3 linked regions of the Homo sapiens genome follow. The protein of the gene in region 1 interacts with the protein of each later gene in a pairwise test. Each region holds a gene or a part of one and is shown on either strand. Other genes may lie near its edges. The genes, in order: ORC4, MTUS1 and FBXL5.

Evidence for each region.
Region 2: the proteins of ORC4 (region 1) and MTUS1 interact in a two-hybrid assay, tested with the Homo sapiens proteins (one large-scale study listed by BioGRID and IntAct).
Region 3: the proteins of ORC4 (region 1) and FBXL5 interact in a two-hybrid assay, tested with the Homo sapiens proteins (one large-scale study listed by BioGRID and IntAct).

The regions. Positions count from the first base shown.
Region 1 is NC_000002.12:148,010,738-148,014,390, forward strand, and holds part of ORC4 (origin recognition complex subunit 4), read right to left. Parts: intron 1-3,653. UniProt on the Homo sapiens protein: Component of the origin recognition complex (ORC) that binds origins of replication. DNA-binding is ATP-dependent. The specific DNA sequences that define origins of replication have not been identified yet.
Region 2 is NC_000008.11:17,798,276-17,802,397, reverse strand, and holds the start of MTUS1 (microtubule-associated tumor suppressor 1), read left to right. Parts: upstream 1-1,303; 5' UTR 1,304-1,337; intron 1,338-1,480; exon of another isoform or gene 1,481-1,800; intron 1,801-4,122. UniProt on the Homo sapiens protein: Cooperates with AGTR2 to inhibit ERK2 activation and cell proliferation. May be required for AGTR2 cell surface expression. Together with PTPN6, induces UBE2V2 expression upon angiotensin-II stimulation.
Region 3 is NC_000004.12:15,627,766-15,631,418, reverse strand, and holds part of FBXL5 (F-box/LRR-repeat protein 5), read left to right. Parts: intron 1-627; coding exon 628-753; intron 754-3,385; coding exon 3,386-3,534; intron 3,535-3,653.

The sequences.
Region 1 (3,653 bases):
TTCACTGAGTTCTACCAAACATTTAAAGAAGAACTAACATCAATCCTACTCAAATCATTCTCCAAAATCAAGGAGGATCTCCAAATTCATTTTATGAGGCCAGATTTATTCTTTTTTTTTTTTTTTTTTTTTTTGAGACAGAGTCTCACTCTGTTGCCCAGGTGATCTGCAACCTCCACCTACTGGGTTCAAGCGATTCTCCTGCCTCAGCCTCCAGATTAGCTGGGATTACAGGCATAAGCCACCATGCCCAGCTAATTTTTGTATTTTTTGTAGAGATGGGGTTTCACCATGTCGGCCAGGCTGGTCTCAAACTCCTGGCTTCAAGAGATCTGCCTGCCTCAGCCTCCCAAAGTTCTGGGATTACTGGCGTGAGCTACCATGCCTGGCCCCAGATTTATTCTGATACCAAAACCAGACAACGATACAACAACAACAAAAAAGAAACTACAGGCCAGTATCTCTGATGAAAATAGATATAAAAATCTTCAACAAAACACAGCAAACCAAATTCAACAGCACATTAAAAAGATCATCATAATCAAGTGGGATTCATCCCAGGGATGTAAGGATGGTTCAACATATGTAAATCAATCAGTGTGATACATGGTATCAACAGAATGAAGGACACAAAGTGTATTGTCATTTCAATAGATGCCAAAAAAATCTTTTTTGATAAAATTCAATATCCCTTCATAAAAACTCTCAGCAAACTGGGGACAGAAGGATCATCCCTCAACATGATAAAGCCATACACAACAAACCCACAGTTAGTATCAGACTGAATGGGGGAAAAACTGAAAGCCTTTATTCTAGGATCTAGAAGAAGGATGGGCACTTTCACCACTATTACTCAAGTTAGTAACAGAAGTCCTAGCCAGAGTAAACAGACAAGAGAATGAAATAAAGGGCATTTAAATTGGAAAGGAGTAAGTAAAATTATCATTGTTTGCAGCTCATGTGATCTTATACTAACCTAAAGACTCCAACAAACGACTATTAGAACTAATAAATTCAGTAACATTGCAGAATACAAAATCAACACACAAAAATCCATAGAATTTCTCTATGCCAACAGTGACAACCTATCTGAAAAAGAAATCAAGAAGGTGATCCCATTTACAATAGCTACAAATAATATTAAATATCTAGAAATAAACTTAACCAACTACAATGCAAACTATCAAACATTGATGAAATTAATTGAAGAGGACACAAACAAATGAAAAGACATCCCATGCTCATGGGTTGAAAAAAATTGTATTGTTAAAATGACAATACTTCCCACAGCAATCTACAGATTCAAAGCCATCCCTATCAAGAGCAATGACATTCTTCACAGAAATAGAAAAAAAAAATCCTAAAATTGTATGGAAGCACAAAAGACCCCAAATAGCCAAAACAATCCTGACCAAAAAGAACAGAGCTGGTAACTGGTAGACTTACCACACTACCAAACCTCAAAATATACTACAACGCTATAGTAACCAAAATAGCACGATAGTGGCATAAAAACAGACATGTAGAACAACAGAACAGAGAGTCCAGAAATTAATCTGTGTATTTAAAGCCAATTAGTTTTTTACTAAGGTGCCAAAAACACTCATTGGGAAAGGACAGTCTCTTCAATAAATGGTGTTGGGAAAACTGGATGCCCACATTCAGAACAACAAAAGTAGACCCCAACTCTTGCCATATACAAAAATCAAAGAAAAATGCATTAAAGACTTACATCTATGAAACTAATCAAGGAAACCATTAGGCAAAAACTCCAGGACATTGGTCTAGGCAAAGACTTCTTAAATAAGACCTCAAAAACACAAGCAACTAAAGCAAGAAAATAAAATAAAATAACAACAAATGAGATCTCTCCAAGCCAAAAAGCTTCTGCACAGCAATGAAAACAATAAAATGAAGATATAACATGTAGAATGGGAGAAAATATTTCAAACTAATATCTGACAAAGGATTAATAACCAGAATATATAAGAATCTCAAACGACTCAATAGGAAAAAAAAATCTGATTTTAAAATGGGCAAAAGATCTGAGGAGACATTTCTCAAAAAGACATACAAATGGCAAACAGGCATATGAAAAAAATGTTCCACATTATTAATAATCAGAGAAATACAAATCAAAACTATAATGAGGTATCAACTCACTCCAGTTAAAATGGCTTTTATCGAAAAGGCAGTCAATATCAGATGCTGGTGAGAATGTGGAGAAAGGGGAACCCTTGTACACTGTTGGTGGAAATGTAAACTGGCACAGTCACAACAGAGAACAGTATGGAGCTTCCTAAAAACACAACAAATAGAACTATAATCCAGCAATCCCACTACTGTGTATATACCCAAGAGAAAGGAAATCAGTATATAAAAGGTATCTGTACTCCCATGTTAACTGCAGCACTATACACAATAGCCAGGATATGGAATCAACCTAACTGTCAATCAATGGATGGATAAAGAAATGTGGTACATATACACAATGGAATGTTATTCAGCCATAAAAAAAAAATGAAATCCTGTCATTTTCAACAATATGGATGTGACTGACATTATAAGGGAAATAAGCCAGGCATAGAAAGACAAGTATCACATGTTCTCACCCATATGTGGAAGCTTCAAAAAAATTGAAGTCATAGAGATAGTGAGTAAAAAGATGTTAGCAGAGGCTGGGAAGGGTAGTGTTGAGAGGAGAATCAAGAGGAGATGGTTAATGGGTAGAAAAATATAGTTAGATAGAAGGAATAAAATATAGTGTTCAGTAGCACAATATAGTAATTACAGCTAACAATAATTTAGTGTATGTTTTAGAACAATTAAATGAGTGGAAATGAAATGTCCCTAACACAAAGAAATGACAAATACTTGAGGTAATGGATATCCCAATTACCTGATTTGATCATTACACATTGTATGCTTATATCAAATATCACATACTCCCCATTTTATGTATCCATAGTAATTAAAAATTAAAATTTTTAAATATATGAGTTAAGTTAAAAAAATTTTGGCTCAAAGCATAAATATATTAAAATCAAATCTCAGAAGTAAAAAAGAAAGACAATTAGGGTTTTATTTATGGTAGTGGCAGACAGGACCAACCTTTCTGCTGACGCCAACAAAAAAACTAAATAATGAATGAAATAAAGTAATGTGAAATTACTTACCAAATTCCATGTGAAGGTAAACCAGAAACAAACCATACACCAAGTAACTTTTGTTCTGAGGACATTTTCCTGTCTAGAAGAAAAGGCTGAGAAAAAAGGCTGAGCTAATGGAAGATGTGCCGGTCTATGGTAAAAAAATCAAAGCACAAGGCCAGGTGTGGTGGCTCATGCCTGTAATCCTATCCTTTGACAGGCCAAGGCAGGAGGATAGCTTGAGCCCAGGAATTCAGGATGATTGTGTGCAATACAGCGAGACCTCATTTAAAATAAAAATAAACACAAAAAATCAAAATCAAAAATAAAAATAAAAGCACATTGCCTAACAAAGCTGGGGACTCAGATAAACTACCCAATTTATGTTCAGAGTTTAAGGACAACATCATTAGGATAAGAGGAAATTGAAGGAAAATAGAATTCATGATCTTAAAGTCTTCCTTAATGTCATGTGTATAACAGAAGGAATCCCAACTCTTGAAC
Region 2 (4,122 bases), on another chromosome or scaffold:
ACTATCAATGGCAAGACATCTGTCAGTTATTCTAATATTCATGGTATAGAAAACTGTGAAATACAGAGTCCTTACGTCTATTCTCCAAAAAAGTTCACTTCTCTTTAAAAGCTTTTAGCAAACCACAATCCAGGTAATTAAAAAGGAAATATTAAAATTTTGTTCTCAGGTTGTCTGACATTTCACGGTTCAGCAATGTGACATCTCTCACAGGCAGAATAGCATCTTCGGACAAGTTTTCTATTAAAAATATGCTTTATAGAAGAAAATATTTTACGGACCTAGAAGACAGCTGTCGATGAAATTTGCTCAGTTTAGCAAACAGCAAGGACTGTGTTTGTGTTTAGAGAAAAGTAGGTCGAGCCTAGTTTATCTCCCTGGGGTTCTAGACTCCTTTCCACGTTGTATCTCAAGCTCTAATAGCTGGAAAGCTACTTTCTTTAACCTTTAATACACACTTGCTAGTAAACTTGCTAGAAGCATGAAGATAATACAGACTGCGAATCAGCCCTTCTAAGAGACAATCACGACTCCTTCCTTGCAAGCTTCCGCCCTGATAATTCTGCAACCTTCCCACCTTCTATACGCCCCGCGGTGCGAGGCCCCTCGGCCTGCAGGTGGCCAGAGGCAAGCAGGAGTCAGATCCCCCACCTACCGCGGCCCGGCCTGGGCCCTAGCGCTGGGTGCGGCGGAGCCCCGGGCTCCTGCGGGGACGAGCGTGGTCCCGGGACGCGCGGTGCAGCCAGGTGCGCCGGCGGCAGTGGCAGCCGCTGAGCGCCGCGTCGCACGTGGCAACAGGTGCAGCGCTGTCCCGGGCTGGCGCCGGGGGGCGTGGGGCGCGTCCGCACTTAGTCCGGGAGCGCGCGGAGCGTCGGGATTGGGACCCGAGAGCGGGAGCGGAGAGCGGGAGCGCCCGAGCGGAGTCCAGCGCCCCGAGGTACGGCCTCGCACGTCATTCAGGTTCCCCGAGGGCCGTCCCCTGGGACGGCGGCTGGCCTTGGTCTCCCGCAGCGAGCCGCTGGAGTGGAGCCTTCGGAAGGAGCCGCCCCGGGTTGGGGCGGGAGGCCCGAGTTCGGCTATTTACAAGTTTCCCGAACTCCCCGCCCTGCTCCACCCCCTGGCGGCCCCGGAGGCGGGGAGGCGGGGAGGCCGGGGCTCCGGGTCCCGCCTGGTAGCCGCCGCAGGCGTGGGGTGGTGCCGCGCCGCGCGCCCCCAGGTGCAGACGCCGCCCCCGAGACCTCCGGGGCGGGTTCTCGGCGACCCCGCCAGTGGTGCAAAGGGCGCCAGCCCTCCCCGCCTCTGCGTCTTTGCTCCCGGAGCGCTTGAAGGAGCTGCGGGTAAGTGCGCGCTGGAATCTGTTCCCGCTGCCCGGCGGCCGGGGTGGGGAGGGGACAGGCGAGCGCGCCGCCCAGGGTGACGGGACCGGTCCTCGGGGAGGGGAGGGGGCGTTCCAGGGGCCTGGGGGCCGAAGCTGAGGGCTAAAGGGGGCGGCAGCGCCGGCGGAGCGGAGGCGGGTCTCACGTGGGCCAGCGCAGAGCCTGCGGAAGGGACGGATGCGGATCTCGTCGCTGTCACCTTGAAAGTGACCGAGGGGCTTGACTGTGGACTCCTTACGCCGCCCACCCGGGCCCGGCGGTCCCAGCCTTCTCGCAGGGCCCCTTCTCAGCAGAAGCAAGCGGGGCCGAGAAAGCGGGTGGAATAGGGTTGCTGCAGGTCCCAAAGACCCCTCGTGGCGCCTCGCTACTTTCTGCAGCTTGTTTGCACTTTTTCACGCTCTAGAAAAATCTCATCTTAATTAAGGTGACCTTATTGACTACTCTATAGTGCTTAGTGGACTTAGGTGTTCACTGAGGAACGTTTTTGTTCTTTTTTGAAGACGTACTCCTTTCTACCAAGTTGTTTGTTGATTTTTGACTTGGAGTAATTTGGGACTAGGAAGGAAGAGGTTAATTCATTTAGCCTGCGTAGTTACACATACTCTGTTAAATACTGTTTGTTTGAAGTAGTCAGTGTTCTAAGAAAGGAAATCCAGTGTGTTTTGTTTGTTTCAATGAAACCAAAGTCTTAGGCAAAACGGTGCGTGGAAGCTTTCAAGTTTTGCCAGGTGCAGGTGATCGAAAGTCAATCATCACTAAATCACAGCGCTGGGGCTGGAGGGTGGGAGTAGGGGTGTTACCAGTGAATTTCAGGAGGAAGGGAGGCAATGCAGGAGGGAGGGGATTAAAAAAGAGAGTCATTGCTTCCTGGGAACCAGTGACCTCTTTAAGGAGGGTATATACAAGATAACAGTGCATGGACAACTTTAAAAGGAATTGCATAAACGGAATTGCAATTCTGTAGACAGTTTGCTTTTTCAGGGATGGTTAGGGCAGGAAATGATACACAACTTAAAATGGTGATGTCCTGTTAGTACAGTGCTTTACAGTGTAGAAAGTGCTGTTACAGATTTTTTTTTTTTCATAGGCAATATATTCCATTAGGAAAGCTATACAAAGAAAAGATTAGAACTACATGCTTATCCTTAAAACCAAAGCTAAAAAACCTTAGAAGTGGAATTTAGTTTAAAATAATATGTAGTTATTTATGTAACTTGCACCACGTTTTTTCACCTGTTCTTTTTAAAATCAGGTTTATGAAGAGAAAATAATTCTTGGTAAATCTGCTTGGTAGAAAATCATGCTTGGAACAAGACCTTTTAATTATGTCAATAAGTCAAGGTTACATTTTGGAGTATAATAGGATTATAAGATTCTAGATAATATCTTATATTTTTTGGAAACTAACCTGCAGTTATTACACTCAAGCATTTAAAAAGCCTGTTACTTAATAGCCCTGTTCTGTTAACCCTGTTTGTTTTGATTTCAAAAGTAATCCGTGCTTGCTGTATAAAAATAGGTAGATTGAGAAAAGTGAGTTAAGCAATTTCAGCAAAGATAATCACAGTTAATATTTAAGAAAATACTTGTTAATATATAGAAAAATTTTTTATAGTTATATAGTTTATCTAAATATACTATTGCGTGGAGGTTTTTTCCTGATTAATGTATCATGAAAAATTTTCCATGTCATGAAATCTTCAGAAATCTTAGTGGCTACTTAATATTACATTACATAGATGTATCAAACTGGTTTTCATTTATTTCCACTTACTAAATATACTTTTGCAACAAATACGTTTTTAAAACTTTATGTGCAGGGTTAATATCCTTAGTGCCCTTGAAATACAGTTGATGGTTGGAAGATCTCCTCATACATATTGACCATTTGCTTTCCAAAAAATGTTTAACCAAATTATGTTCCCACCAGCTCTCTGTGAGAATACTGGTGTTACCGTATTCTTGTCAACATGTAGAATCATCCTTAAAGGGAAAAAAAAAAAATTCTTCCCAGGTTTATAGGTGAACAGTGCTTTCTCTATATTTAAACTTCAATTTCTTTGATTACAGATGATTTGAACACCAAAGAAATCTAGTTGTTTTCCATTTTGAAATTTGATGTAGTGCCAGATTTTTCTCCTGGGATATTAGTATTTTTCCATTAATTCATAAGAGCCTTTTATGGATTGATAGTAAATCTTTGCCATTCATATTGCAGATACTTTTCCCATTTTATCTTTGCTTTATATATTTACAGTAGTTTTGACATACACAAATTTCTTTAATGTTGATAAATCTGTTGACTTTCTCAAAACAGAATTTTTAACACTTCTAAATCGTAGCTTCAGAACTATATGTGACTGTGGTAGAAGATTTAAAAAAAATTTTCCAGCCGGGTGCGGTGGCTCACGCCTCTAATCCCAGCACTTTGGGAAGCCAAGGCGGGCGGATCAGGAGGTCAGGGGTTCGAGACCAGCCTGGGCAACATGGTGAAACCCCGTCTCTACTAAAGATACAAAAAATTAGTCAATTGTGTTGGCATGGATCTGTAATCTCAGCTACTTGGGACGCTGAGGCAGGAGAAGCGCTTGAACCCGGGAGGTGGAGGTTGCAGTGAGCCGAGATCACTCCAGTGCACTCCAGCCTGGGCAACAGGGCAAAACTCCATCTTAAAAAAAAAAAATTCCCCAAATTCTAAATTAGAATCTTTTCAAATTCATTGCAAGAACTTCCATATCTTGGGTTA
Region 3 (3,653 bases), on another chromosome or scaffold:
AGGATTATAAATTATGCTACTATAAAGACACATGCGCACATACGTTTATTGTGGCACTATTCACAATAGCAAAGACTTGGAACCAACCCAAATGTCCATCAATGATAGACTGGATTAAGAAAATGTGGCACATATACACCATGTAATACTATGCAGCCATAAAAAATGATGAGTTCATGTCCTTTGCAGGGACATGGATGAAGCTGGAAACCATCAGTCTTAGCAAACTGTCACAAGGACAGAAAACCAAATACCGCATGTTCTCACTCATAGTTGGGAATTGAACAAAGAGAACACTTGGACACAGGGTGGGGAACGTCACACACTAGGTCCTGTGGTGGGGGTAGGGGACTGGGGGAGGGATAGCATTAGGAGAAATACCTGATGTAAATGATGAGTTGATGGGTGCAGCAAACCAACATGGCACATATATACCTATGTAACAAACTTGCACGTTGTGCACATGTACCGTAGAACTTAAAAGTATTAAAAAAAAACAGTTGCTTATTGCCTAGGGCTCAGATGTTTTCTCTTTGTAGAGATTTTTATCGTAAATAGCTTAGTTTTTCATAATTGCAGGCAATCTGATATTATTTTGAACCTTTTACTTGTTTATTCATTGAGTAGGTGACTGGTATAGTGGTCCCGCAACTGAACTTGATACTGAACCTGATGATGAATGGGTGAAAAATAGGAAAGATGAAAGTCGTGCTTTTCATGAGTGGGATGAAGATGCTGACATTGATGAATCTGGTAAGCTTGTTTGGAATTAAAATTATTACATAGTGTTTTAATAATTGATAATTAAGTACTTATAATTATTAGGTATTAGATTTATGTATTTTGTGTTTTCTAAAGAAACTGGTGTTTCTAAGCCTACTACTTTTTAAAATTTGAAGGAATAATAATGAAATTTTAAATTAATTGAAGTACTTTAAAGAGTGCATAGGATTATTTCTCGTTTTTATATTAAAATCAAAAATCAGAAAATGGTACCTTTTTTCTTATGAAAATAATGTACGTTTATTATAGTGCTTTGTAGTTTACAATGTGATTTTAGCACCACTTCAAGTGATCAGTTGCACAGCATCTATTGAGTCATCTATGGCTTGAGGGAAATAGGATGAAACTGTTGAGTCGACTTACTCGTTTGTAGATAGTCTTAATACTTGCCTAATAAGGTTATTGTAGAATTAAGAAGTAATATACATAAATATTGTTTGTAAATGGTAAGGGATTACAAAAACTAATGTAGCCATTCATTAAACACTGTGGGAGAGTTCAAGGATGGATAAGACTTCATCGCTACTCCAAACAACTCACAAATGAGAGAGAATTTAGAAAACATAATTTTTAATTTAAAGTATATGATGGAAAAATGCTGTCATACTTGTGCAGAGAGATGCTATTTGGAAGTGTGAGGAGGAAAACAAATTCTGTCTTGGATATTCTAGATAATAATTATTAAAAGATGGTAAAATAGTAAAAAATGAACAGATGAGACATTCTTCTAGTTGGTAAAACTGAAACTATAGGAAATTTTATTTATAAAGTTACTTGCTTAAAGTAATTTGGTCTGGCGAAAGAATTAAATGTGGAAAAAAGACACGTGGAAAGTAACAGTGTAAGTATAAAGATTGTTGTATCAGCAGCTAAAGTAGTTTATTTTTATGAAACGCAGATGTGCCACATTTTGATGTAAAGATTCAAAATGTCCTATATAAGGAAAAGGTCTATTCTAGTTTGATAGATTTGGTGATGTGCTTACCTGTGGCAGGCATTGTTTTAGGTATGAAGGATCTAATGGTGAACAAAATGGAAAAAAGCAAAACAAAACTGGCGCTTGTTGAGCTTAAAATTTAGAGACAGGAGGCAAACAATAAATACAGGTAAAATATATTCCATATTAGATGGTGACAAGTGTTGTAGAGAAAAATAAGACAAGGAAAACATGCCAAGAAGAATTTAAAATTGCAGTTTTAAATTGAGCGATTAGTTAAGGTCCTTTGGGAAATTTGAGTAAAGACCTGAAGGAGATGAGATATTTGCTCAGATGTCAACTTAAGGAAGTCTCAGTTTATTCATTCTAGAAAATTAATTCATAATACCCGTGGTAAGAATGTTGAAGGTTCTCACAAATTCAGTGTATTTGTCTCCATACTTGAAGATAGCCAGAGGAAAGACTCAATTTCCTTCATATTGAAAAGGAAAAGTTAACGCTGTAAAGATTGAGCCTTTTTAGATAATATATCTGTTGATTATTAAAGACTAAACTGTCATTTACTTCAGTGCTTTTTTCGGTTTGGCTGCCTTGTCTTTTTACTTGTCCTAAGAAGTTATTGTTTTTCATAGAATGTTTAACTTTCTTAAAGATTTCACAGTTCCAGTTACCTTGATTTAATCATCACACATTGTATACAGGTTCCATAGTATCACATGTACCCCCAAAATATGCATAATTATTGTATATCAATAAAAAATTAAAAATTTAAAATTTTCACAGTAAATAGTATACATTTAGATAGTGAGGGCCACAGAAACAAAAGAATGGTTTGGGAATAAAATTATAGTAGGGCTCACTAAAGTAATTTTTATCTCCTTATATTTTATCTTCGTGTGTGTGTGTGTGCGTGTGTGTGTGTGTGTCTGTGTCTGGCTAAAGGAGGAATTTAGGATAATATCTAAACAAGGAACCATGAGTAACAAATTCTTTTAGTTGATATCCTTTTGTCTGCTATACTTAGTTTTGTTTTAAATGAGACTTCCTTAACTTATTCTGTTAAATCATTTTATGTTTAAAGACATTCAAATTGGTCTTTAGGTAAGAATAATAACAATAGGATCCTGAGAAAGGTAATACAATACAATTATTCATTCTTTTTAGTGTAGTGTGTTTTTTCCTTTTTTCGAATTGGAGTTTATGGTGTTTTCATGGTGGATGTTACAGTAGTACATTCTGTTGTAAACATCCAAGCTTTACAGAAGTTATTAAGTAAAACCAAAAGCCATGCTCATTTTTAGCTTCTTAGAAATTCTAAAGTACCTTCCTTTGCTTGATTCATTATGATCAGGCTAATTTAGTTGAGTTTCAAATCTTTTCTAGCTTTGTGCCCTTTTTAGTTATGTGGAATCAGTGATAGTACGTTTTACTATGGATCATTTTTCTTTTGATATCATATTTTCTTTTCTCTTGAAAACTTTTGCTGTTCTTTTCAGTTTTCACATTTTTTTCCAAAACCTTTTCATTGCCTAAAAATGGGATGGTTTACATAAGAAAGTATAAGGATAGCACAAAGTATGTCATATTTAACAATTTGGTGAGCGCTTGAGTAGCTTAATTATTATCAGTTTATCAAGTTCTTGGACTTTTGAATTCATTTTACAGAAGAGTCTGCGGAGGAATCAATTGCTATCAGCATTGCACAAATGGAAAAACGTTTACTCCATGGCTTAATTCATAACGTTCTACCATATGTTGGTACTTCTGTAAAAACCTTAGTATTAGCATACAGCTCTGCAGTTTCCAGCAAAATGGTATGTTTAAATTAACACTAGTTTGGGTATTAAGAAAAACAGCATGATAAGAGTTTGGTTTGCTCATTCCTGAGTTTAATTAAGGGGAAACAAACCCAAAAATGATTATTGAGTGCCTT